Regions from separate parts of the Homo sapiens genome. Here all the other regions are linked to region 2. The links come from fine-mapping of genetic effects on gene expression. A gene starts in region 2. Each other region holds a variant in brackets. All regions are shown on one strand. Distances are from middle to middle. Region 1 has its middle 19 kb from the start of LINC01271. Region 2 holds the start of CEBPB (CCAAT enhancer binding protein beta). Region 3 overlaps PELATON (plaque enriched lncRNA in atherosclerotic and inflammatory bowel macrophage regulation).

Evidence for each region. PIP is the estimated chance that this variant, and not a neighbour inherited with it, causes the effect.
Region 1: its variant is fine-mapped to the expression of CEBPB in whole blood (INTERVAL, PIP 0.95).
Region 3: its variant is fine-mapped to the expression of CEBPB in whole blood (TOPMed, PIP above 0.99).

Annotation. Positions count from the first base shown.
Region 1 is chr20:50,336,455-50,344,627 of GRCh38, reverse strand. No RefSeq gene overlaps it. Among named protein-coding and RNA genes, the nearest start is that of LINC01271, 19 kb to the right of the region's middle. RefSeq lists an enhancer at 5,315-5,514. The variant T/C (reference allele first, on the strand shown) is at 4,211.
Region 2 is chr20:50,186,204-50,194,376 of GRCh38, reverse strand. CEBPB (CCAAT enhancer binding protein beta) reads right to left here and starts at 3,547. Exons shown (of 1, transcript NM_005194.4): 1 at 1,709-3,547. The coding sequence starts at 3,343. The coding sequence ends at 2,306. It overlaps CEBPB-AS1 (CEBPB antisense RNA 1), which reads left to right and starts at 2,308. Exons shown (of 7, transcript NR_125739.1): 1 at 2,308-2,713; 2 at 2,955-3,109; 3 at 4,092-4,379; 4 at 4,816-4,921; 5 at 5,750-5,834; 6 at 7,250-7,364; 7 at 7,957-8,173. RefSeq lists enhancers at 279-840, 7,693-7,782 and silencers at 2,205-2,314, 2,735-3,174, 3,315-3,524, 3,351-3,645, 3,605-4,014.
Region 3 is chr20:50,272,065-50,280,237 of GRCh38, reverse strand. It overlaps PELATON (plaque enriched lncRNA in atherosclerotic and inflammatory bowel macrophage regulation), which reads right to left. Exons shown (of 4, transcript NR_170992.1): 2 at 4,503-4,587; 3 at 2,625-2,747; 4 at 450-2,061. Among named protein-coding and RNA genes, the nearest start is that of PELATON, 8.7 kb to the right of the region's middle. RefSeq lists enhancers at 932-1,226, 2,229-2,766, 4,611-5,110, 5,111-5,612. The variant C/T (reference allele first, on the strand shown) is at 3,833.

The DNA.
Region 1 (8,173 bases), 150 kb before region 2:
GGGGAAGTTGCAACCCCTGCCATGGAGTGGGGGTTCCTTGAGGTGGCGCTGTGGAACTGCTTCCTAACACTGGCCACAGCGACTCCCAACACCTCTCAGGCTTGCCCTACAACCCATTTTTCACCTGCAGCCAAAGGCGTTGCCATGAAACAGACCATGTCATGGTCCCATCCAGATCCTCTGATGGCTGCCCCTCACTTTGGACTCTGGCCTGCAGGTGGCCCCTGGTGTCCTCTCACCTCCACTCACTTCACTGCGGCCACCCAGCCTCCTGGCTGCTCTTGCAGATCTGCCAACTCCATCCTGCCCCCCAGCTTGGGCACCCACCATTCCCTCTGCCTGAAGCCCCCTCCCTCACCTATCAGCCACGAATGGAACTCAGCCCGCACTCTGAAACAGAGGCTTTCTTGCCCCCTTGGGATCAAGATGCTCCACAGACAGACCCCGAGGGAGATGGAGACACAAGCAGAGGGACAGGCTGAGACATACATGGGCACGCAAACCAAAGGTGCTCAGAGCCACACGTGGTCCAGAGGTACAGAGAGACACACGGTGCCAGACGTAAAGTCACAGCCACAGCCACGCCCAGGGAGACACATGGAAGCCCCAAGCCACAAGACTATTCAGACACACTGGCCATGGGTGTGCAAGACGTGCATGGGCACACTCAGATAGACACACATGCCCTCACCCCACACACACGTGCACAGGCACACCCAGGGAGCCGCAGCCAGCACCAACGTGGCCCAGAACACCCAGCCACACACATGCACACACACACTTCCCTCTGGCGCCCGGAACAGCCCCGTGCCAAGCGTCCTAGGACAAGGACCGCCTGCAGCCAGCCTTGGCGGGAAGGTGTCCTGGCAAACAATACCTCCCCTCTCCCACCGTCGGCACAGACACAAGGAGCCATTGTCAGCCTGGCACACACCGCGGGGCGGCCTCTCCACAGGCCCTCCTGGCGGGCATGCCTGCACGTGGGGGCGGAAGGCTGGCGGCTCCCCAGGCCCACCTGCTCCCATCTGCCCACCAGGGACCCTGCCTCCTTCAGAGCCTCCTGCCTGGTCCTGCAGACCCTGGAGGGCTTAGCTCCCTGGCCCACTTTCCCTCCCCAACCCCTTGGGACTTACGCATCCTCCTCACAGAGCGGCCAGGGCTTACGAGGGGCAGGGTTTGGTGGCTGAAAACGTGAAATCTAGATTCAAACACACATGCCGTGTGACCTTGGGCAAGTCACTTCCTGTCTCTGAGACTTGGTTTCCTCATCTGTAACATGGGATAATGCTAGCACCTCCCTCACAGGGCCGGTGGCATAACGATTTGAGCCACAGCATACACAACACTGAGGCAGCAGGTGCACCCTGGGATCTGGTAGGCCCAGGCTCCGGCGACAGCCTTGCCATTCTCTTGCTAGGCCTCGGGCAGTTGACATCACCTCTCTTCCCCTCAGTCTTCTCACCTTGAAAGTGGGGATGGTCGTTGGCCCCCCTTTCAGAGGTGTTCCTTCTGTAAGACTCTCACATGGAGGGTTTAGGATGAGCCTGCCACACAGTAGGCACTCAATCAATGCTGGCCATGATCATTGTCTTAATGGCCTGAGGCTTGCTTATTCACTTATTCTTTCTTTTCATTCCTTTCACCAGTCTTTCCTGCGTACCTACCACATGTTGTAAGCTGAGCAGTTCACCCTAAGTTGCTCCCTCCCCCTATGCCCCAATGGGCTCCTGTTAGATGTTTGTTGACTGACTGAATGACAGGAGGCAATTCAGAGACCATCACTACCTCCAGGCAGCACAAGGACACTGACTGAGTGGTCAGGAGCCCTGGGTCAGCCTCTTAACGGCTTGCGATGCCCGGTCAGGAACACAGATCCCTGCTCCACAGCAAGGACGTCATGAAGATTAGGCAGGGTGGAAAAAAGAAAGTGCCACTCAGTGAACACCTACAATGCCAGGGCCACCCTGCCAGCAGTGCCACAATCTTTTCAGGACCTGCCCCTGTGCAGACGGCACCTGTTTGAGCAGCCACACCCCTCTGCATCCCTCTCACCATGCTCCGGCTCATTTAATCCGAAAGTGCTCATCAGCTGCTGGCTTCACGGTTTGAGTTCATTGGCTTGTCCTATTTGGTGTCTGTGCCCCCGGACCAGGGTCCCTCGACCTTGGCTTGACTGACATTTGGGGCCAGATCATTCTGCACCTGAAGGCTGCCCTGGGCTTTGTAGGATTGGTTCAGCAGCCTCCTTGGCCTCTCCCCACTAGATGCTGATAGCACCCTCCCTCCACCCAGCTGTGACAACCACACACATCTCCAGACATAACCAAGTGTCCCATGGGGAACAAAACCACCTCTAGCTGAGAACCAGAGGGCAGAGATTTTGATTTGTTTGGTTTCTTGCTGTATGTCCCTGTGTATACAGTAAGTATCAATACATATTTGTCGAGTGAATCTTGAACAGATGCATCTCACCGACTCACGCTGTTCCCCTTTGCTGGAACGCTTTTCCACTGCCCTTTTCTGGCGCACTCCTACTCATACTTCAAGACCCTGGCAAGGAAATGATATGAGGAAAGTGGGGCATGCAGGGACTGGGTGAACAGGAAAGTACCTACTATGTGCCACTAAGAAAGGGCCTCCCGCAACCCCACTCCCAGGCCTCCTGTGTCCAGTAGGAATGTGGGCCCAGTATGGCCACATCTTCCCATTTTTCAAGAGAAGCCAGAGAAAAGGACTTTATGTGAAATCTCCTGGCATGTCAGATGTTGGCAATTGATTCACATTAAAAAAAAATACTTTAAGGACCAAACTAAACATATCTCCAGAGTGGACCTGTCCCATGGGCAGCTGTCATGGAGGTCTGCTCTAGGAGGCTTGATGGGTACGAACACCTTTGAGGATAACGAAGCTGAAGCAGTTCTTCCTGGCGTCTCACTTGCGTGCCCTCTGTTGTAGCCATTGTGGGAGGGGTTCTCATACAGCTGGGGCAGCTCTGATGGGGGACAGAAGGGCAGAGGTAGCGCCCCCAGCTCTGAGCCGCACCCACAGGCAACACCCAGCCCACCCCAGACCAGCTCCTTGCCCAGCTCAGCCCAGAGTCCAGGGTGGATGGAGTGTGGGGAGGACTCATCATGGGGGCTGTGAGAAGCCTGTTTATGGCTCCAAAATTCCTATGCCCCAGGCCTAGGGGAAATTAGTGCTCGTATGAGGCTGTTCACCTCCAAACTCCTTGGCCTCTCCAAGAAATTAAAAACAGGGAAACCGAGGCAGGACTGAGCTTCATGGAGACCTGGGCCTGCAGGCCTGGGCAGGCTTGGAGGCAGCCAGGAGGCTGACTTCTCTGGAAAGTCCCTTGTATTCGAGAACTGGCGGGGTGCCGGGGAGCGAGGACACCAGGGGTCTCCTAGTCTCAGAGCCTTCTGCCGGATCCAGGAGCTCCTCAAGCGTCTGCCCTTTCTGGGACAGAACTTTCCAGCAACAGAAAGTTGAGGAAGCCCCTCTCTGGAAACCCTGAGCCTCCTTGATGGGGCTTGCATTCTGCTTTGGGGCAGAATGTGGGACTGTGGGACAGGAGGACGGGGCGTGAACCCCAGTCCTAAGCCCAGATGTCGGCTGGAGATCCTCAAAGCCAGGGCCTCTTCTCAAGAGTCTGATGGCCCCACCAGCCATTTCTCTCACCCAGACCCCAAGTCAGACTGGACACTGTCACCATTGTCCTGGAGGCCAAGAGACCCGCAGACCAGAATTCAAAGCCTTGCCCCGCTGCGGGCTGAGACAGTCGCTTGGGCTCTGTGGTCTCATTCCTGCATCTGTAAAATGCATCCTTCCATTGTAGGAATTCAACAAGCACATGACATGGGGCTGGTGCTGGGCAGAGGAGAGAAGAAGTGACAGTGAGCACGCACCCTGGGCTGGTGCTGAACCCGCCACACACGTCCTTCTTCCCTTCTCACCACAAAACCCTGCATCTGTTCATTCAATGCTGGATGAGTGCCCCCTATGTGCCAGGCTCTGAGATTTAATGGAGGACAGTGGAGAACTGGCCTCTGCCTGCTGGGAGCTTACAGTCTGGCCAATGGGGAGTTATGAACCCCCTAAATTATTGTGTCAAGTAGTGGTCAGTGTTATGGGAAAACATTCACGCAGGGTGAAGAGGTAAGGCCAGGGGAGCAATTTGGAAGGGCCGGGGGTCAGAGCAGGACCCCCGGGG[T/C]CATTTAAGCAGACACCCAGATCAGGAGAGGGAAGAAGCCCTGTGGCTATCTGGAGGAAGGATGCTGAAGGCAGCGGAAACAGTGTGTGCAAAAGCCCCGAGGTAGGCGTGTGCTTAGCATGTTGGAGGAACAAAGAGGAGCCCAGTGTGGCAGGGGTAGAGGGAACCAGAGAGAGTGAGTAAGAGGAGATGGGCCAGGCGCGGTGACTCACACCTGTAATCCCAAGCACTTTGGAAGGCCAAGGTGGGCAGATCACTTGAGCTCAGGAGTTCGAGACCAGCCTGGGCAACATGGCAAAACCCCATCTCTACTACAAAAAATACAAAAATTAGCTGGCCGTGGAGGCATGTGTCTGTAGTCCTACCTATCTGGGAGGCTGAGGTGAGAGGATGACTTGAGCCCAGGAGGTTGAGGCTGTAGTGAGATGTGTTGGCACCACTGCACTCCAGCCTGGGTGACAAAGTGAGACCCTGTCTTAAAAAAAAAAAAAAAAAAAGAGACAGAGAGAGAGAGATGAGGTTATAAGGGAAGCATGGGAAAGATCTTGTAGGGCCTGGTAGGCCACAGAGATCTTTGACTTTCTGCCAAGTGAGGTGGGAGCCGTGGGAGGGTTTTGAGCACAGGAAGGTCATGTCCTGACCTCCTATACTCATCCTCATCTTAAAGGTGAGGAAACTGAGTCTCAGAGAGGTGAAGTTACCCACCCAAGGTCACACAGCCAGCAAGTGGCAGAGCTGGAGTTTGCCCCCACATCCCTGTGGCTCCCAAAGCCAGCCTCTTCCCATCCCATCAGCTGCCTCTGTGTCTGGCGTGAGTCAGGAGGCTGGATTGCTGGGAGGGGGAGAGCTTTTTAGAGCTGCTTTTTGGAGCCTCCTGGCTCTGCCTGGCACATCCCCTCCTTCCCCACCCATGCCTTCTCCCTTGCCCTCAGCCACCCCCAGCTGCCTGCGGTGAGTGCCTAACATTTAAGGCTATCCCCTCCCAAGTGCAGATTGGATTTTTTTCTTTCCATAAGTCCCCATTATGCCCCAGTAGACTGGATTTTGGGCAATAGAAAAAACGAGCCTAAAGAACTCCAGCGCTAATTGGGGGTGACAGGCAGGGGCTCGGGGCCTCTGGAGCAGCCTGGCTCTGTCTCTAATTTGCAGAGTGGCCAGGGTAAGTCCCTGGCTTCCAAAGTCATGCTTGTTTGAAGGACAATCACTTTCTTTTTCTTGTAAAAGGAAGATAAATTGTCAGCCTGTCGGTTTCATTATGAGCTCGTCCGCTGTCTTTCCAGTAACTGAGGGCGAGAGGCTGAGCCGCTGCCCAGAGGCTGCCTGTGAGGCCTTGGGGGCTGTGGTTGATGCCACCTGGCCTCCTTCGCATCACCTCCCTCTCAACACCCCTCCCACCCCCTCCAATAATTGTGGTATTTGGTTTTCCCTCAACACCAAATGTGAAACTCTCCTGGAGGGAGTGCAAAAGGAAGTCTGTGAATCTCTGAACTGTGGTTGAATGAAGGTATTCTTAGGCGCCTGCTTGCAAGGATGGTGAACTTCTGGTGCTAAAAGCAGAATTGCTTTTCAGTAAATGTTATTACTCAAAAGGAAGTTGTTACCACCACAGCCACCTCGAGCCTCTTCCAACTGCCACTCTGTCTGCCAGGCCAAGTGGGGAAAGGGTCTCTCAGTGGCTCCCAATGACCCCATCCAGCCCCCAGGGGAAGGTCTTGCTATCTCAGCTGACCCTGGAGGCCTGAAGCTGAAGTGCAAACAACCACAGTCTGCCTAGGCAGAGTATCTCAAGGTAGGGGCTGTTTGCTGACTCAGCATTTAAAAGTCCCAAAGCTTGAGTGATCTTGGCTGAGCTGGGCTGGAGCTACAGGTGGGGTTGGGGGCACACAAGAAAGCTGCCCGTTGGCTGCAAGGTTGGCTGTTTTTTGAGAGCTGTTGTCCATCTTGGCAATGCACCTTGCCTAACCCCTATTTCCTCTTCTCTAAAATGGAAAGGTGATCATACCTCAATGGAAAGAGCTAGCATATTGATTACTCTAGTAGATACTTAATAAGTGGTGAGGTTATTATCAACAGTGAAAATGATTCTGGATTTAAATCAGACAGACCAGGGCTCAGATCTCAGCTCTGCCACCTACTAGTTGCACAACCTTGGACAAGTCCATTCCCCTCACCAAGTCTCGGTTTTCTCTGGATCACGCAGGAGTGATTATAGCACCTACTGCTCAAAGTTGTTGGGAGAATTCCGTGAGCTGCAGCACGTAAGTCACAAGGCACACAATAGGTATGCAGTAGGCATGGGTTCCACTCCTGCTCCATTTTGCCTTACAGAGGATCACCCCCCAGGCTGTGTCCCCACCTGAGCAGTCCCAACCACAGGCTCCAGGTGGAGAGACACCCATGAAAGTTTGCACCCACCGGGGTCCAGAGGGCAGACAAGAAGCGACCAGGCCAAACTCAGGGGAGTGGAATGGACCACTCAGCAGACACTTCCCTGCAAGAAAGAAGTCAAAACAAACCCCCTGGCTGGTGAGACATGATCCCAATCTAGAGCTCTCAGAGGATGCTCTCGGGTCCAATCCTCTGCCTGCCTCTACCTGTAGCCTTTTCTACAGCCCGGAAAAGTGGCAATTTCATTTACTGGGCAGCCACTGCAAGTGAGCATTGTGCTCTGCATGTCTCATGAATCACGTCATCGTGTCCCCCCAGCAACCCCACGAGACAGTTCCTCTCATTGCTCAGCACCTGCAGGTGTGGAAACTGAGGCCCAAGGAGGTGAAGGGACTGGTAGCTGAGATTTGAACCCAGCCCATCCCATTGTCAAGTCACACACATAATCACCGCACTACTTCCGTTATCTGAGAACAGTGTGTCTGTGTTACCAAAGATATAATTATATTTAGTAGTGTCTGGGTATAGAAAATTGTATAATATATTCTTTTTAAAATGTATTCTTTTGAGATTATTATAGATTTACATGCAGTTGTAAGAAATAAACAGAGAGAGTCCATATACCCTTTCCAGTTTCCCCCAATGTTAACAGTCACAATAAAGATATTGACAGTGATATAGTCAAGATACAGACATTTCTATCACCACGAGGATCCCTCATTGCCCTTGTATAACCAAACCCATCTCCCACCCCCAACCCTGCCCCCGAGCCATGGCAACCACTAATCTGTTCTCCATTTCTATAATTGTGTGGTTTCAAGAATGTTACATAAATGGAATCATATAGTTTATGTAACCTTTGAGGACTGGTTTTTTTCACTCAGCATAATTCTCTGAAGATTTATTCAAATTGTGTGTTATCAATATTTTATTCCTTTGTATTGCAAGTAGCAGTCCATAGTATGGATATAACACAGCTTTTTTTAGTTAAAAAAAACCATAGACAGGCTTCCGGGTGGTTTACCAGTTTTTGCCTATTATGAAGAGAGCTGCTATGAAGATTTGAGCATAAGTTTTTGCACAAACATAAGTTTTCATTTTTATGTCCAGGATTGCAACTGCCAAGTCATAAGGCAGTTTTTAAAAAACTGTTTTCCAGAATACGGTACCGTTTTACATTCCCATCAGGAATGTATGAGTGTTCTAGTGTCTCCATTCCTCACCAGTGATTGAATGCGAAAGTTCCCATCGTTTTTTATTTTGGTCATTCTGATAGGTGTGTAGCAATATCCGATTGTGGCCTTAATTTGCATTTCCCTAATGGCTAATGATGTTGAACATTTTTTCATGTGTTTATTTCCATCTGCATGTTCTTTTCAGTGAAATATTTGTTTGTGTCTTTTGCTCATTTTCTATTTGGATTTTTTTAACTGCTGACTTTTGAGAGTTCTCGAGAATTCCGTCAAGTTTTAAGAATTCTAGGTACTAGTTCTTTGTCAGATATGCAGTTTGCAAATATATTCTCCTAATCTGTAGCTTGTCTTTTCCTCCTCTTAATTGGGCCTCTCATGGGTT
Region 2 (8,173 bases):
TAAATCCTTGAGGTCAAGCCCACATTGCTGTCGCTGCTACTGACAGAAACCATCGAGACCAGTGGGGCTTGGGACTGAACTGACTTCGAGGCTTTGAAGGCATGCCCGGCCAGTTGTCCAGTTGCCCAGGGCTGGGAGGGGACGTGGTCAGGGCCACGCTGCAGGTCCCAGGTTGAAGTGAGGTTATCTGTGTCCAGCAATCTGCATAGCCCTCGAGCCACCATCAGGAGACACTGGCATTAGGGAGGTGGAGCTTATAGGAATCCTCCGCTTTGTGGCGGTGGGGGATGAGTGTCGCTGTCTGTTCCCCACATCCCAGGCTCCCACAGGGAAAGCACAACCAGGCCCCCAAAAGGAAAAGGAGGGGCAAAGCATTTCCCATTCGCGAACCACGGTATCAGCAACTGCTCCTGAGATCCCAGACCGCCCCAGGTCCTTGGCAAACCAGGCTACGATGCCTGCTGCCCCTGAATTCCTCAGGGCAGGGCAACCCCCAACCAGTGTCTTGCCCATAGGGATCGGACAGCCCAAAGCTGCTCCCCACCTCTAAAAACAGGCGTCATAACAATCCCCACCTTCCCAAAGGTTATTGTGAGGTCTAAATGGGATGGGGCAGGTCCAGTGTTTACCAGATGCCGGCCCCTGGCAAGTACTGGCCACACTGGCGCTGCACTGGAGACTGGGGTGCCAAATGCCAGCAGCTTCCCAGCAAAAAATAATAACAAGAGCAAGCGCTTATATAACACTTCTTGCGTGCCAGGCACTGTGGGACGCTGTACATGTATCCACTCACATCCATCTACATCCTCAACTCTCAGGAATGCCATCCAGGGCTGGATGGGAGTAGGGGGTGCGGTGAGAAGCCGGAAGGGGCAAAGGGATCAGTGGGCAGGGAAGAGGAGCCTGTCCCAGGGAATCAGGGCTAGCAGCCCCACGTTTGTGCCTGGGCTCAGCCACCTTGAGCAGGCAGGTGAGGTGGGCTCAGTGTCCAAGTCTGGGCAAAGAGAGCAAGTGATGAGCCTCCCATCCTCAGGAAAGGTAATCAAAGTGTGGGAACCCCTCCCCCACCTCTCTCCACCTGGCCTGGCCTCTCCCCTCCTGCTGGCCAGGGACACACAAACACAGACTCGCCCACACACCCAGGCTCCCCTCTTTAAAATACACATGTATACACAAACTGTGTTTTAAACAACCCACCCCACTACACTGACCAAAAGCATCTGCCCTGACTCGGGCTCAGCAGGACCAAGACCTGAACCCCCTCCTCCTACAGTCACAGGCCTGCCTACCTAGTCCCCAAACACAGGGCAGGGGTCACAGACCTCCCAGCCCTTCCAAACCCAAGCCTGACACTCGGGACCAGCCAGAGGCTCCGGAATCTCTTCTCAAGCAGGGTTCCCAGCCACCCGTCCCGGCGCCTAGGGGCTCTGAGTCAGCCTGAATGCCTGACCCATTACTCTTCTCCCCTTTCCCCCGGGGCTGGAACCCCATCTCAAGCAGACCCTGTGTGTGTGGGAGGGGGAGTAGCAGAGGAGGCAGAAAAACCAGCTGCAACACCCCCACCCAACCACCAAAACCTCCAAAAATAACAGCAGCCCCCCACACACAACCCCCTACACACCAGAAACGCAAAAACAAAATCCTACAAATCCAAAATAAAGTAAAAAAATAAAAAACAAAAGCCAATTACTGCCCCCAAAAGGCTTTGTAACCATTCTCAAAAAAAAGTTTATTAAAAGTGTTCTTAATGCTTGAAACGGAAAAGATTCCCAAAATATACAGACGCCTCTTTTCTCATAGAAATAGATTATTTTTTATAATACAAAAAAAGACCAAAAAACAAAACAAAACAAAACATCAACAGCAACAAGCCCGTAGGAACATCTTTAAGCGATTACTCAGGGCCCGGCTGACAGTTACACGTGGGTTGCGTCAGTCCCGTGTACACACGCGTTCAGCCATGTTTAAACCGATTGCATCAACTTCGAAACCGGCCCGCCCGCCGGCGCCTGGAGAGGGGCAGAGGGAGAAGCAGAGAGTTTATCATTCATCTGTACACATAGACGTTTCTTCTTTAAATAACACCACGGGCGGGAGCCCCATCTGCATGTGCGGTTGGTTTGGACAAAAATATAGATATATATATATAATAAAATATTAAAATTACCGACGGGCTCCCCGCGCTGCCAAGTGCCCCAGTGCCAAAGTTTTGCCGGCGCCGCCGGGGGCGGGGGCGAGGGCGCGGGCGCGGGCGCTCCCCGGAGTCTCAGCCCCGGCCGGCAGGGGGACGCGCGCGGGGGCCGCGCTAGCAGTGGCCGGAGGAGGCGAGCAGGGGCTCGGGCAGCTGCTTGAACAAGTTCCGCAGGGTGCTGAGCTCGCGCGACAGCTGCTCCACCTTCTTCTGCAGCCGCTCGTTCTCGGCCGTGAGCTCCAGGACCTTGTGCTGCGTCTCCAGGTTGCGCATCTTGGCCTTGTCGCGGCTCTTGCGCACGGCGATGTTGTTGCGCTCGCGCCGGATCTTGTACTCGTCGCTGTGCTTGTCCACGGTCTTCTTGGCCTTGCTCTTGACCTGCGAGGGCGCCGGCGCGGCCCCCGCGTAGCAGGCGGTCGGGGGCGCCTTGGCGTCAGCGGGGCTCGGCGTGCCGGGCGGGCTGGACGAGGAGGACGTGGAGAGGCTCCCGCTGCTGCCGCTCGGCACCGCCTGGTAGCCGAGGTAAGCGCGCAGCGCGTACGGGAAGCCCGCCGCCATGCCTGCGCCGCCGCCCGGCGCCCCGGCCTCCTCCTTCCGCTTGCAGTCCGCGGGCTCGAAGCCCGGCTCCGCCTTGAGCTCGGCGGGCGGCGGCGGCGGCGGGGGCGGTGGGTGCAGGGGCGCGAAGCAGCCGGGGTGCAGCGCGCCCTTGGCGGCCCCCAGGCGCCCCAGGCTCACGTAGCCGTACTCGGCCGGCTTCTTGCAGTTCTTGCCCCCGTAGTCGTCGGAGAAGAGGTCGGAGAGGAAGTCGTGGTGCTGCCCGGAGGAGGCGGGCGCGGGGGCGGGCGCGGGCGGAGCCGCCTCGAAGGTGTCCGTGGCCGTGGCGGGCGCCGGGGCCTGCGGCGCGCCCAGCGGCTCCAGGTACGGGCTGAAGTCGATGGCGCGCTCGTGGTCGCCGATGCTGCCCAGCTCGCCGGCGGGGGGGCGCGGCCCGGGTCTGGCCGCGGGGGGCGCCGCGGGGGCCGCCTTGCCGCCGTACGCAGCAGCCAAGCAGTCCGCCTCGTAGTAGAAGTTGGCCACTTCCATGGATTTAAAGGCAGGCGGCGGCGGCGGCAGGGGGAGACATGCTGGGTCCCAGGCCACCAGGCGTTGCATGAACGCGGGTGCCCGGGGAGGGGGCCTGGGGCTGCCCGCTCCGGCCGGCCCGCAGGTGGCGCGGCCTCCCTGCTCTGAGCTGTCGCCGCTGCGTCGCTGCTGCTGCTGCCGCCGCTGCCGGGGTGGCCGCTATTAGTGAGGGGGCTGGTGGCTGGACCCTCGGGTGGGTCCCCTTCCCAGTCCCGTGCGCGGCTCTGACTCGCTAAAGTTTCTCCTGAGCCCGGTTATTTATAAGGGCGGCCCGTAGCAACCGCTGCGTCACGCCGGCCCCTCCCGCCGCGCCGCCGGGACGCGAAGGACACGGCCGCGGCCGCCCGAGACCCCCGGGAGGACGGCGGCAGGGCGCAGCGGAGGGACCGGGCACCCGGAGCGCGTTTTCGGGGGGCCCCCGGGACGCAGGGGCGGCCTCACGCCCCCTGCCCACCCCCGCCCGGCCGCCCCGGGATTGGGAGCGAGAGGGGGCGGTGCGACCCCGCCCCCGGACCGCCCCTCTGGGCTGGAGGCTGTCCTGGAAGGCGGGGGAATCGGAGGAGGGGGCGACCTGATCGCCTTCCCCCCGAGACGCGGCCCCGGCCCGCCCCCTGCTGGAGGAGGCGGAGGTTTCAGGAGGGCCGAGCAGAGCCCCGACGGCCGACCAGGGTCGGCTCCCCGGGCCGAACCCTGGAGACCCCAGCCCGCAGCTCTAGCTCCAGGAGAAGCGACCCATCTCCGTGGCCCTTCCTCCCGTAAACTCCCACCTCCTCCCCAGGTCCCCGGCTTTAGAAAGAAGACTTGACGCCTGTGACGACTCCCCTCTTAAGCCACAGACAATATGAGGACCCCGGGGGTCGGCGCGACCGGGCAGGATCGCGCCCCGCTTGGGGCTGGACCCTGGTCCACGGAGCCCCGCCCCTAGCCCCGCCCACCACACCTGCCGCCTGCTCGAGGCTTGGACACGCCCGGGTCTTCTCTTGCCCCGCGCTGCGCCACCCGACCTGGGCCCTGGGATGGGGCAGGGGCGGGGGGTGCTCGGCCCTGCCACACTGTGTGACCTTGGGTGAGTCACTTCACTTCTCCCAGCTGCAATCCATGAAGGGTGTCGCTACTGTCAGTGGTGGTGGCATTGTTCCCACCAGACTCCCAAACCTAAGGCTTACGTTGTGGGCTGCACATCAGAGAGAACGGGACCCCCACGGATTGTGCCAGTGGAGGCCCAGAGAGAGCATGGCGTGGCATACCAAGGTCACATGGCCGCATGTCCCCCATTCATCCCAAATGAAATGCCCTCATCTGAGCCCTAAGACCTATTGCCAGTCCCAGAGGCCAAAAACTTCTGTTTCTGAAGTTGCTAGGGAGGGACTTAAGCGAGGCCTCACGGGAGGGGGTGGTATGCAGGAAAGAGAAGGAAAGAGAAAGATAAGTTTTTACCAAGTCCCTGCCCTGTGCTTACGGTGGGCCTGCACCCCGAGGTTCAACTTTTTTCACCCCACCAGGAAGATGCTTTTGCTGCTGCCATTTCACAGACGGGAAAGCGACAACGGCCCGCCTGGACTTGAACACAGGCCCAAGGCCTTCTGACCACTTGCCCGCCTCTGCTGGGTAGGCTCAGGTTAGAGGGCCCTTTGCCCTCCCGGACCCATTCCTAGGCCATTGGGGCAGCTCCCTGGGCCCACCTCTCTGCCACTCCTAGCCCAGGCCACCTAGGCAGGAGCTCCCAGCCTGCCCGGGGCTGATCCCCAGCCCACTGACCCCAGCCCTGGCCCCAGCGGGCAGGCGGGCATTGCTCAACCTTTGGTGTTATCTGCTGAGCTGGGGTGACCTCCGCCCCCAAGAGCTGGAGAAATGACATCTCTGGGCACCCTTGGTGGGTAGGAGGCAGGGAGGGAGGGGATAAAACACTGGCCCAGCCTGCTGGCTTTCTGGGTCTTCCCAGCAGCCTCTGGGTTGGGGAGGGATCAAGGCCCAGAGGGGTGCGGCAGCTTCCCTAGGGCCACCCGGCCAGCCCTTCCTCACTGCAAAATGGGACACTCAGGGCTGAGCTAGAGGCCACGGCTTCTGAGAGGCCCTCCCTGTCCCACCTGCTAGTGAATTTCCTTCCCTATCGCCAGCCACCATTATCCTAGCTGTCTACCTCAGTCTCCCTGCAGGCTGCCACTTGGGGAGGGCTGGCCCACGAGGGACTCCTGAGCACAGCACGCTCAACATTTACCAGTGAAGGAATGCATTTGCTGTTCCCTGTGCACCAAGAACACTGTCACCCCACCTCTGCCCAAGGCAGCTCCTCAGGTCTCAGCCCAAAAGCTGCCTCCTCCGGGAAACCCTCCCTGACCTTCCCATGGGAAGTCTAGGCCCTCAGTCACTCCTCTCACACCCCTGCTTCATTTCCGTCACCATTCTCATTATAATCAGAATTATCTTGCCTGCCAGTCTTGCTGTCTGTCCCCACGGCCTTCACTACTGTGTCCCTGGTGCCTAGAACAGAGCCTGGTACATAGAAGGTGCTCGATGAATGGTGAGTGAATAAATGGAGGAGGCTGAGAAGAAGGAGAGGTTCCTCGTTAGCTGGGCTGTGTGACCTTAGGCAAAATGGCTCCCCTCTCTGAACCAAAGCACTCGCCCACGTTCCCTTTCTGGATTCTGAAGAGATGCAGGGAGATATGGGGGAACTGAAGCTAATTGGAGGATTTGCTGTGTGTTCTTAGGCCAAACTTCCACCTTCTCTGAACCACATTCCAAGCTCTTTGCATGTATTAACTCATTTAATCCTACTGATAATTTGTAGGAGGCAGGTCTTTTTTCTTCTTCTTTTTTCATATTTTTCAATGTTTTGTAGAGATGGATATGTCTCACTCTGTTGCTCAGGCTTTTCTCGAACGCCTGGCCTCAAGTGGCCCTCTTGCCTCAGCCTCCCAAAGTGCTGAGATTACAGGTGTGAGCCGCTGCGCCAGGCCACAGTCTTATCATTATCTCCACTTTATAGATGAGGAAACTGAGGCCCAGAAGAGCTAAGTGTGTCTGCTCCAGGTCACATGAAAGGATGAGAAGGAATAAAATCTTTCCAGTCTGACTTTCCCTCTTGGGTTTGTCATAACAGGCCTGGCAATGTGAGTCCCATCTTCTGGATAGAAGAACTGAGGCACAGAGAAGGGTAGACCTGGGGTCACACAGTGCGTTAAGGTGTTACTCGGACCTTGCAGGCCAGCCCCCAAAGACCAGACTCAGCCCCAGCAGGGGTCTAGGCCCTCTGGCCTCTGGGGTGGAACATGCTTGCCACCCTTCCCCACCCTCCACCCCCTGCTGGGGATGACCCATCCCTTCTCAGCGCAGGTCCCACCCCGGTGCCGACCCAGGTGTCCTGCAGGGAAGCTGCAAGCTAGGATGACGTAAGCCCTTGTTTTTACAAGGCTCTTGCTCAACAGGCCCCGCCTGCTGCTCCCCCACCCCCACCCCAGTACTGTTCAGCCTTTCCCCAAGAAGTGGGGATGGTGGGAGCTTGAACCACCACGGCCCAGAGGCCCAGAGTACGTGAGTGGCTGTGTGGGCACAGGAAACCAGGATCCCCCTGGCGCCACCTCTCCCAGTCACCTGCCCTCAGAACCTAGAGCCGGAAAGGATCTCAAACTGGCAGCCAGTGGCCAAATCGAGACCACAGATGTGTTCAATTTGACCCCATAGCGTTTTGCTTGATGTGTGTGTGTTTAAGTGAATTTATTGCCAACATTTAAAAATCAGGAGATTTCACATCAAAATTCAAATTTCCAGCTCCTCTTTTAAAACCTGAAGCTGTGGGCTGGGCCCACGTGGCCACATGGTGGTGGGCAGGAGCCAGGCGGGGGCGGGGAGGGAACAGGCACTTTCCTACCTGGGACACACGTCCTCCTCTGCCCCCAAACTGCTTTTCACAATTCCTCCTCCCCATCTCTGCAGCTTTTCCCTATCCCATTTTCAAGAGGAGAAAACTGAGGCGATTTGCCAAGGGGAGATCCACGTGGCTGCTTTGACAGAGAGTGTTCTGCAAAAGGGCTTAGAAATCAGCCAGCAGGTGGGAAAATATGGCGGAGAGGTGAACCATCAGAACATGAATGGGGGGGTGTCTCTAGTGGGCGTGGGGCAGGGGGATGGCAGGGGGATGGCCTTTCATGCTGCCCTGTGCCTTCCATGCTGTGGCTCTCCGGCCGTGTCTGGTGTCCCCTCTGGGCCTCAGTCCCTGGTATATAAAATGAGGTGATAATATTCTATCTGGGATTCTGGGCCTGCTGTTACCCCTCACTGCTGGCCTTCCCCGACACATTAGAGTTAATCAGATGTCCCTTTCACCCCACAAAGCAGGCAGATGGGGAAACTGAGGCCCGAAGAGGATTAGAACTTCCTACTTCCCCCTCCAAATCCCCCTTGTACCCTTGTGAATGGGTACAAGAGCCAGACTTAAAAGCCAGATTCCCTGATTCCAATGTTTGAGATTTTCCCCATCATGCCTCCTCTCTGAGGCCTCAGTTTCCCCATCTGCCAAGTGGGGCTGGCAGAGATAGATCCCCAAGGGCTGCCAGGCTCCGAGGTTCTGAGATCCAGGATTTTGGAGACGGGAGGTGCTCAGGACCGGTAGTGAAACTTGCCTGAGTATATACTGCCCCCAGGTGGCAGGTTCTGGGACTGCAGGAGCCATTCACATGCGTGAAGATCCGCTGGGCGCCCTTGCTCTGGGATCAGGAAAGGCCGGTGCCATGGATGTGATAGATGCACACAGGGCATCAGCAGGCCGCCGAGAGGAACCAGAGTGTCCAACGAACAGAAAACAGTGCTCAACCTTCACATTTATCGAATGTTCCTTGGCACATGCTGTAATTCTGGCCC
Region 3 (8,173 bases), 86 kb before region 2:
GGAGAGGTCACTATTCATTTATTGGTTCTTTTAAGAAACATTTATTAAGCACCGACTGTGTGCCAGGCATTGCACTAGGTGCATAAGGTAGACAAAAGTCCCTGTCCTGAAGGAGCTAATGTTCTACTGGGGAGATAGGCAAGAACCAACAAGCAAATTCATACGAAATGTGCCAGGTGGAGAGAAGGCAACCAGTGGGGTAGTGGGGGTCGATAAATCCAGGCAAGTTGAGGGGAGGAAGTAAGGGTGTAGGGTGTAGGGTGGCCAGTGCAGGGAAGCTCCTTCGAATTCTTGTCATTTCTCCAGAGGCCATGACAGTTTTTATATTTAAGCCAGCTGCTGATGGTGGGGGACTCATTATCGATGCTCCCTGAGTTTCCGGCTCCCTGCAGGGCACTCTCATCAATTTCATCACATTGAATCTCCTCTGCAACCCCAGAAGACAGGTACTCATTTTCATTTTTATTTATTATTAGTATTGTTATTTTTAGAGATGGGGCCTCAATCTATCACCCAGGCTGATGTGCAGGGGCATAATCATAGCTCACTGCAGCCTCAAACTCCTGGGCTCAAGCAATCCTCCCGCCTCAGCCTCTAGAATAGCTGGGACTACAGGCACACACCACCACACCCGGCTAATTTTTTTAGAATTTTGTAGAGACAGGGGTCTCACTATGTTGCCCAGGGCTGATCTCAAACTCCTGGTCTCAAGCAATTCTCTCGCCTCGGCTTCCCAAAGCGCTGGGGTTACAGGCATGAGTCACCACACATGGCCAGAGACAGGTACTCTTATTGTCCCCATTTCCCAGATGAAGAAACTGAGACCCAGAGAGATGAAGTGACTTGCCCAAGGTCACATTGCTGGAAAGGGGCAGAGCCAGGATTCAAATGGGGCCAAACAGGGATATAATCCAAGGTGAGATGGGCCGATACGATACCAGGGCAGGGGCTTGAAGGGGAGACAATCAAGCAGGGAACAGGGCTTATGCCAGAGCCCTCAGCAGCCAACAGGTTAAGGGCCCGGGAATCTGGGTCTCTGGCCCCAGATAGGGTGACAGCCACACCCAGGCTCAGCCTCTGGCCCGCGCCGCCTGCTGGGAACACACAGTCCTCAGGACTAAGAGGCTCAAAATAGAAAGTGCAGGACCTGGGTCGAAGCCTGGAATGCCCCAGGCAGGCAGACCATGACTCCTGGAAGGGCCCAAGGCTGCAGGGCTGGGGCTGGCGGGGCGAGAGTCACTGGTATCCACTTGTTAGAGCCTGCGTCTCATCTTTGTTATTCTCCTGATGCAGTTTCCAAGACGCCAACTCCAGGATGTGACCAACCCGGGCTCCTCTCCTGGCCTAATCTCAGACCAGCTGTGTGGCCTTGGGCTGGTCACCTACCCCAGAGGACCTCAGTGTCCTTATCTGCCATCGGCTCATAGAGTTGTTCATTCAGGCAGTCAGCCAATGTGTGTCGAGCACTTACCATCTGCCAGGCACTGGGATGGCACTGGGGGCACACAGAGAACACAACAGACAAAAATCCCTGCCCTCATGACTAGGTAGAAAGACCCTACCTTGCTCAGAAGGAAGTCGGGGGGGTGGTCAGGGATGGCTTCCCATGTGGGCACCCGAAGGAGTTGTGGGAGGGAGCCCTGTGGATGCCTAGGAGAAGTGTTCCAGGCAGAGGAAACAGCCAGTGCAAAGGGCCCGGGGCAGTGTGGGCCTCAGGCTGTTTCAGGAGCAAGGAGGAAGCCAGCATGGCTGGAGGGTGAGTGAGGAGGAAGGCTGGGAGAGGAGACAGAGGGAGGTCAGAGAGGAGGCCCCGAGAGCCAAGGAAGGAATCCGAGGGTTTATTCTCCAAGCAACAGAGATCCCTTAGAGAGGACTTTGCTGTGGACTGATGTGGGCTGGCCCACAGTTTTAATAGCTCCCTCTGGCTGAGTGTGGAGAGGGGATTTCTGGAAGACCAGGGAAGAGACTTCTGTGCCAGCAGAGATGAGCAGCAGTGGTGGCAGTGGAGGCAGAAGGAAGGGCTTGGGTCGGGGGTCTGTTTGCAGGAGCTGCTGGGAGGACCTGCCGAGGGAGAGAAGGGAAGAGGGCATGGGTGGGGGTTGAACAGAGACCCCCTCCACCCTCCAGGCCTCAAGGAGCCCCACAGGAAGTGGGTGGTCAGGCGGCCCAGCTGGGAAGGCTGACTGGTTTGTCCAGCCTGAAGCCCACGACCCTCTCCCCACCCTCTGCCCATGGCAGCCCAGGGCTAGAAATGTACCTGGAATGTCAGCCATGAAGCCCGGCCAGACAGTGCCCATGGGACCTGCTGGGGGCCAGGTGAGCACCCTGGCCACAGCCCTGCCTACAAGGGTAATCTCTCGGACCCATTGACCAGGGTAAGTGGTAATTACAGGCCCTGGAGCAGAGAGGGTGGTGACCTCCAGCCAAGACACGCAGGGACTGCGATTCGCACGCAGGACCCCTAACGAGGCACACCCTCTTTGTTGCTGAACAGGCAACAAACTGCCCCAGAGACCAGGGCGTGTCAGCAGAAAGAGCACTGGGCTATGAGTCTGAGACCCCCAGGGCCTTCTCTGAACCTTAGCCCCCTCATCTGCCAAAGAAATACTTATCCATGCACGCACGCTTGCATTGCTTCCCAAGTGTTTACTGGGCACTTGTCCTGGACAGGCGCTGTGCTGGGGGCTGGGTGTACAGCAGTGAACAAAACACACAAAAATCCCCACCTGGGCGATGGTGACATTCCACTGGAAAGAGACAGACAAGAAACAGGATATACCAGCAGGTTAATTTCTAGGATACGTGCTAAGTCCTAGGAAGAAATAAAAACAGCATGAGGCCATAGGAATGAGGGGCTGGTCAGAGAAGGTGTCCCCAGGGGTGACTTTGGAGCAGAGGCCTGACCCTAGACAAGGATCCGCCATGGGGAGAGCTGGCGAGAGTGTCCTCTGTTCCAGAGGGAAGAGTGGGTGCGAAGTCAATGAGGCAGCAGCAGGATAATTGGCAAGTTTATGGCAGAGAGATGAGGCCACCGTGGCTGTGGGTGAACAGAGAAGGGAGAGGCAGTGAGGTCAGGCGGGGCCAGGGCAGAGATCCTGCAGGCCCTGTGGGCTTCTGCTCTGAGTGAGTTGGGAGCCATAGAGGGTTCTGAGCAGAGAAGGGATAGGATCTAACTTGAGCTCTTACAGAATTCCTCTGGCTTAGGAAGGCGAGAGAGGAGGCAGGGAGACCAATGAGGAGACGACTGCAAACATCCTAGCTGGACCAGGGCAGGGCAGGGTAGTGGGGGTGGACCCTTGGACATGTGGATGAGTTTGCTGATGGGCTGACCATGGGAACAAGAGGGAGAACCCAGGTTGGGGGCCTGGGCAGCCAGGTGGCTGAGGTTGCCATCGCTGTAGCAGGGAAACTGCAGGTTTGTGGTGGGGGTAGACAGAGCTCCCTCTGAGCATGAGGCCCCACCCAGAGTAAAAGAAGGACTCCCAGTCCACACACCCCTGCCTCAAGCACAGATCAGTGAAGGGATTCTGTGGACAGGTGGCCCTGGAAGCTGTGATCTGCAGGGGCGAGGTGCCTGCTGTCTACCTGGTGAAAGTCCTACCAATGCAGCTCTTGAGGCTGCCCAGTCTCACACCCCAGGGAGCAAACTTGGCACCTGTTCTTTGCCCTACCCTGAACATCCGCTGGGCTCCCGGGGTTGGTCCCGATGTTCATTTGGAATCTCAGGGGTGATGGGTGGGGAAGGTGGAAAAACGCTGTACCTCTTTCCCACCCATCCCTGTCCCCCGTCAGCCAAACAGGGCTGAGGACTCGCGATCATTCTTCCTCTGCG[C/T]CCCTGTCCCCATACCTCTCAGAGACAGCGTGACTTGTGGCCTCTGCAGCCAGGAACGTGCTCTGGTCCCGTCATCTCACACTGCCCCATCCCCCTCATAGTCACTTGGTTTTCTGCACGTAAGTTCCCTTTTCATAGATGGAGGAACTGAGGTTCCGAGAGGTGGGGCAGGCTCCCAAGTTCACACTCAGGTTAAGTGGCAGGGGCGGGATTCACACTCAGGTCCATCTGATTCCAAAGCTCTTAAGCCCTGAGCATTATAGCTGCTGGCTTAGGTCGGCTCCCAGAAGCTGACCCAAGACAAGGTTTTGGGTGCAAGTGGGATATTTGGGAGGTGATTCTAGAAACACTGGGAAGGAGTGAGGAAGTGACACAAGGAAGGTAGATGAGCAGGTCTCCTCAGTGGGCAACAGGAGCCCAACCCCCTAGAGGCCTCTGGGACAACTCGCAGAAAGTACCTTCCCACTGTCCCCTGAGCCAGAAGCAAGGAAGCTGAGTGGGGGGACAAACAGACCCCACCTCTACTGGCAGGGGTCTCTCACTTGCTTCCCACACTCTTGTGGCCAGAGGAAGCCCTTGGGCAAGAGATTCAGGATAGCAGCTGCAAGGGCGACCTCCCAGGTGGGCACCAACAGCTTCTGAGCCCCCCAACTTCCAGGACAGCACTCACCCCAGAGAACAGGATGATGTTCAGTAGGATGTGACTGTGCTGCGTGACCTTGGCAAGTAGCTTCATCTCTCAGAGCCTCAGTTTTCTACTCTGAAGAAAGGAATCATTAAAAAAAAACAAAAAAAAAACTGTTTCACAAGGGTTGCCGGGGATTCGATGGGACATGAGGTAAAGGTCTGAGAATCACACGTGGCACATAGGAGGTGCGTTTTATGTATTTGTGGTTAAATGAGAGCATGCCTGGTGCATAGAAGCCACTCCACTATAACAGCTATTATCATTATTATTATAGTTTTGTTGTTGTTGTTGTTTAGGACCTCTCCAAGACTGCGCAAGCCTAGGTCTGCTCTGTGGGGACAAGATGGTGGCTGGACAACCTCCCCAGTTTCCTGGGTCCCACAGCCTCTTGCTTAAGGCTGCCTGAACTTTGGGGAAACAGAGGAGGAGGAGAAGGAGGAGGAAGGGGCGGAGGCTTAGGCCAGGCCTGCTAGAGGTAACCGCGGGCAGTGACCCCGCCTGAGAGGCCCCCATTCACCCGTCCACCCATCGCCAGAGCTGCCTGCCCATTCCACACAGGGGACGCCTCGTCTTGCACAACACAGGAAGGAGGAGGCCTGGGTGGCGGTGGGTGACGCCGGGACCCCGTGTCCACCCGGCTGCAGACAGGATGGGCAAGGGAGGCCCCGCCAGGCTTCCTGTGTGCCGAGCACACTGGGCAGAAAGGAGAAGTGGGGTCCAAGGTCACTGGGAGCTCTGGGCAGCACCTTCCCCTCCCTGGCCCAACTGTTCCGCCTGTTCTCCCTGACTCAGGCACCCAGGGTTCAAACCCCACCAGCTCGGCCATGTACCAGCTGCATGACTCTGGAACACGCAGCTCTCAGGGCCTCTGTGTCAGTCACTGCCAGGGTGCGGGGAAGCCCTCTGGGGGCTTGTCATCATCATCCCCATTTCACAGATAAGGAAACCAAGGCCATGGGGTATTTTCTCTCTCTCTTTTTCTCCTTTTTTTTTTTTTAAGACAGATGGGGGGTCTTGCCCTGTTGCCCAGGCTGGAGTGGAGTGGCACAGTCATAGCCCACTTCAGCCTCAATCTCCTGGGCTCAAGCAATTCTCCCACCTCAGCCTCTCAAGTAACTGGGACTACAGGCGTGCACCACTACACTCAGCTAGTTCTTTTTTTTTCCCCTCTAGAGATGGGTTCTCACTCTGTTGCCCAGCCTGGTCTGGAACTCCCGGCCTCAAGCGATCCTCCCACCTCGGCCCACCATCATAAGGTATTTTCAAACAGCATTTGTTATACTTGAAGATTTAGAGGTACAACAGGGGAGTGCAGACCTGAGGACCTACTGGGTGCCGCAGACACACCTATGAGGCCAGCGTGGCCCCTATCCTCCATCCTGGGTCCACAGCAGGCATCACTAATCAATAATGAGTCTCCTTCCTAGTATCATAGATGCAGCCTCAGAGCCCTGCTCAACACAGCTCTTCGGCCACAGTCTCCATCCGAGCACCCAAGGCCTGAGTCAGTGGGGAAGGTAGATCTGCCTGCTCCATCCAACAACAAACTGGACCAGAGGAAAAATCTGCCCAAGAGCGAGGCTGCCCTCTGGCAAGCTACCTTGGGGTACTTCCCTCGAACTTGTCTCCCCCAGCTGGCTGGGAGTCTCAGGCTCGCTTCCTTGGATGCAAACTTGATCTGGAAAAGGCAGCTCAGAGGAAGCATCTGCCGGCTCCCAGGCAGCCAGCAGGGCTGGAGCAGGGGGTGCTGGAGCAGAGGCAGAATTAGGAGATCAGCAGGGCCCAGGCAGACCTGGGGCAGGAGGTGGTGGGAAACAGTGACAGAGGAACTGGAGCTGGGCCTGTTCCTGGAGAGGAAGGGTCCAGGACAGGGCAGGGAACCAGCTGGGACTCGGAGAGGCCAGATTGCCAGCAGGTTGTGGGCCCCACCGGCAGTGCCAGGGAAAGTCCAGTGACCCAGAGTGCCCGGGGCCGGGGGGGATTGTGTAAAAGGAAAAATGAAACTGAATGCAGAGCCCTGGGCCTCCCGCCAGGCCTGGCCATCTCTCCCCACATTCACTGGCATCGCCCCCGTCCAAGTTGCCATCCTCGCTCGCCTGGACATCTGCGGCCATCTCCGGCTGGGTGTCCCTGCTTCACACAGCCAGAGGGATCTGAAATGGGATCCCGCCCAAGTCTCTTCCCTGCTTTGACCCTCCAGTGACTGCCCATCCCATTGGAGATGTGATTCAGAGCCCACCCCTGGCCCCGAGCCCTGGATGTATGGCCCCAGCCTGGTCTCCACCACCCTCTCCTGCTTCTCTCCCCTACATTCATGCCCCGCCAGCAACACTATTTCCTTCCTGTCCCTTAAATCTATCAACCTCATTCCCCACTCCGGGCCTATGCCTTTGCTGTGCTGCCTGTGACACCTTCCCCCATATTTTCCTTTGGTGGCTGCATCTCAGTGAGGTCTCAATAAATACCCTCCCTCCAGAACCCCCAACCCCAACCTACCCCAGACTCCTTCCCTGTCACCCTCCACCATATGCCTCTGGCATGTGTTTGTAGTATCTGTGTCTGGAAGTGTCTGCTTATTTGTTTACTTGTCTTTCTCACCAGAACATCAGCTCCACGAGGGTAAGGGTAATGTCCACCCTGGTCACTGCTGTATCCCCAATGCCTGGCACAGTACTGGACACAAAGTAGGTGCTCAATAAATATTTGTTGAAAGAGACTGAGAGGAAGCTGCTTAAATCAGCTAGAAGATTCTCACTGAGACCTTCCAAGTCCCCACGTGCCATCCCTCCCTGGGGATGACAGGCTGTTCCCCACCATATGTCAGTCTCTGAGTGGTGCACGGTGTTGGAGAGAATTCTGGTTGCAGCAGGAAAGATGATCAATTAGTGATGTCTGCCACAAACCAGGAAAGGCAGGGCAGCTCCAAAGAGATGTGGGCTCCAAAGGTGACGGGGGCATTTTTGTCTTGTTTGTTCATTGCTCCACAGTACCAGGACAATGCCTGAAATCTAATAGGTGCTCAATAAATATTTGTGGAATGTCATATACATGGGTTCCTTATCTAATTGGCTACTCCTTTCAGGGAGAAAAACACTTTTAGCTTATTCAACCAACAACTGCTGGCTAGCCATTCAGTGAGGACCCACTGTGTGCTAATCTGAGAACATTCCAGAGAGACTGATCCTCCATTTACAGAATAGGAAGCCAAGGTCTTCTTGGGACTTGATGGAGGTCACCAGCTGGGTTCAGCTGACCCCAGAGTTCTGTAAGAACCCAGACTCGAGGCCTGGGGTGGGAGGGTGAGGCCTCCCCAGACTCCTGCTCCCCACCCCTGGGCATCCCCAGCCCCCTCCCTAGGGCACGGAGGGGTGAGGACAGGCGGCTGCTGCTTCCCTTTTGGGGCATGTCACAGGGCTGTGGTTAAACGGAAGCAGGGCCCCTGCCCATCCCGAATGCAGGCCCCCGAGGGCCCCACCCTCCCCATTCCCTGCCCAGACTCTTCCCAGCTGACCAGGGGCATCAGTTCCCCGTTCCTCTTTTCTCTGAGCAGAAGGAAGTGGGTGGGGCCATGAGAACATCTCACAGACTCAGTTTCCCCATCTGACAAGTGGGTTCAACCCCTGGCACCTGCAGGTGTTGGTCTGTGGGTGGGG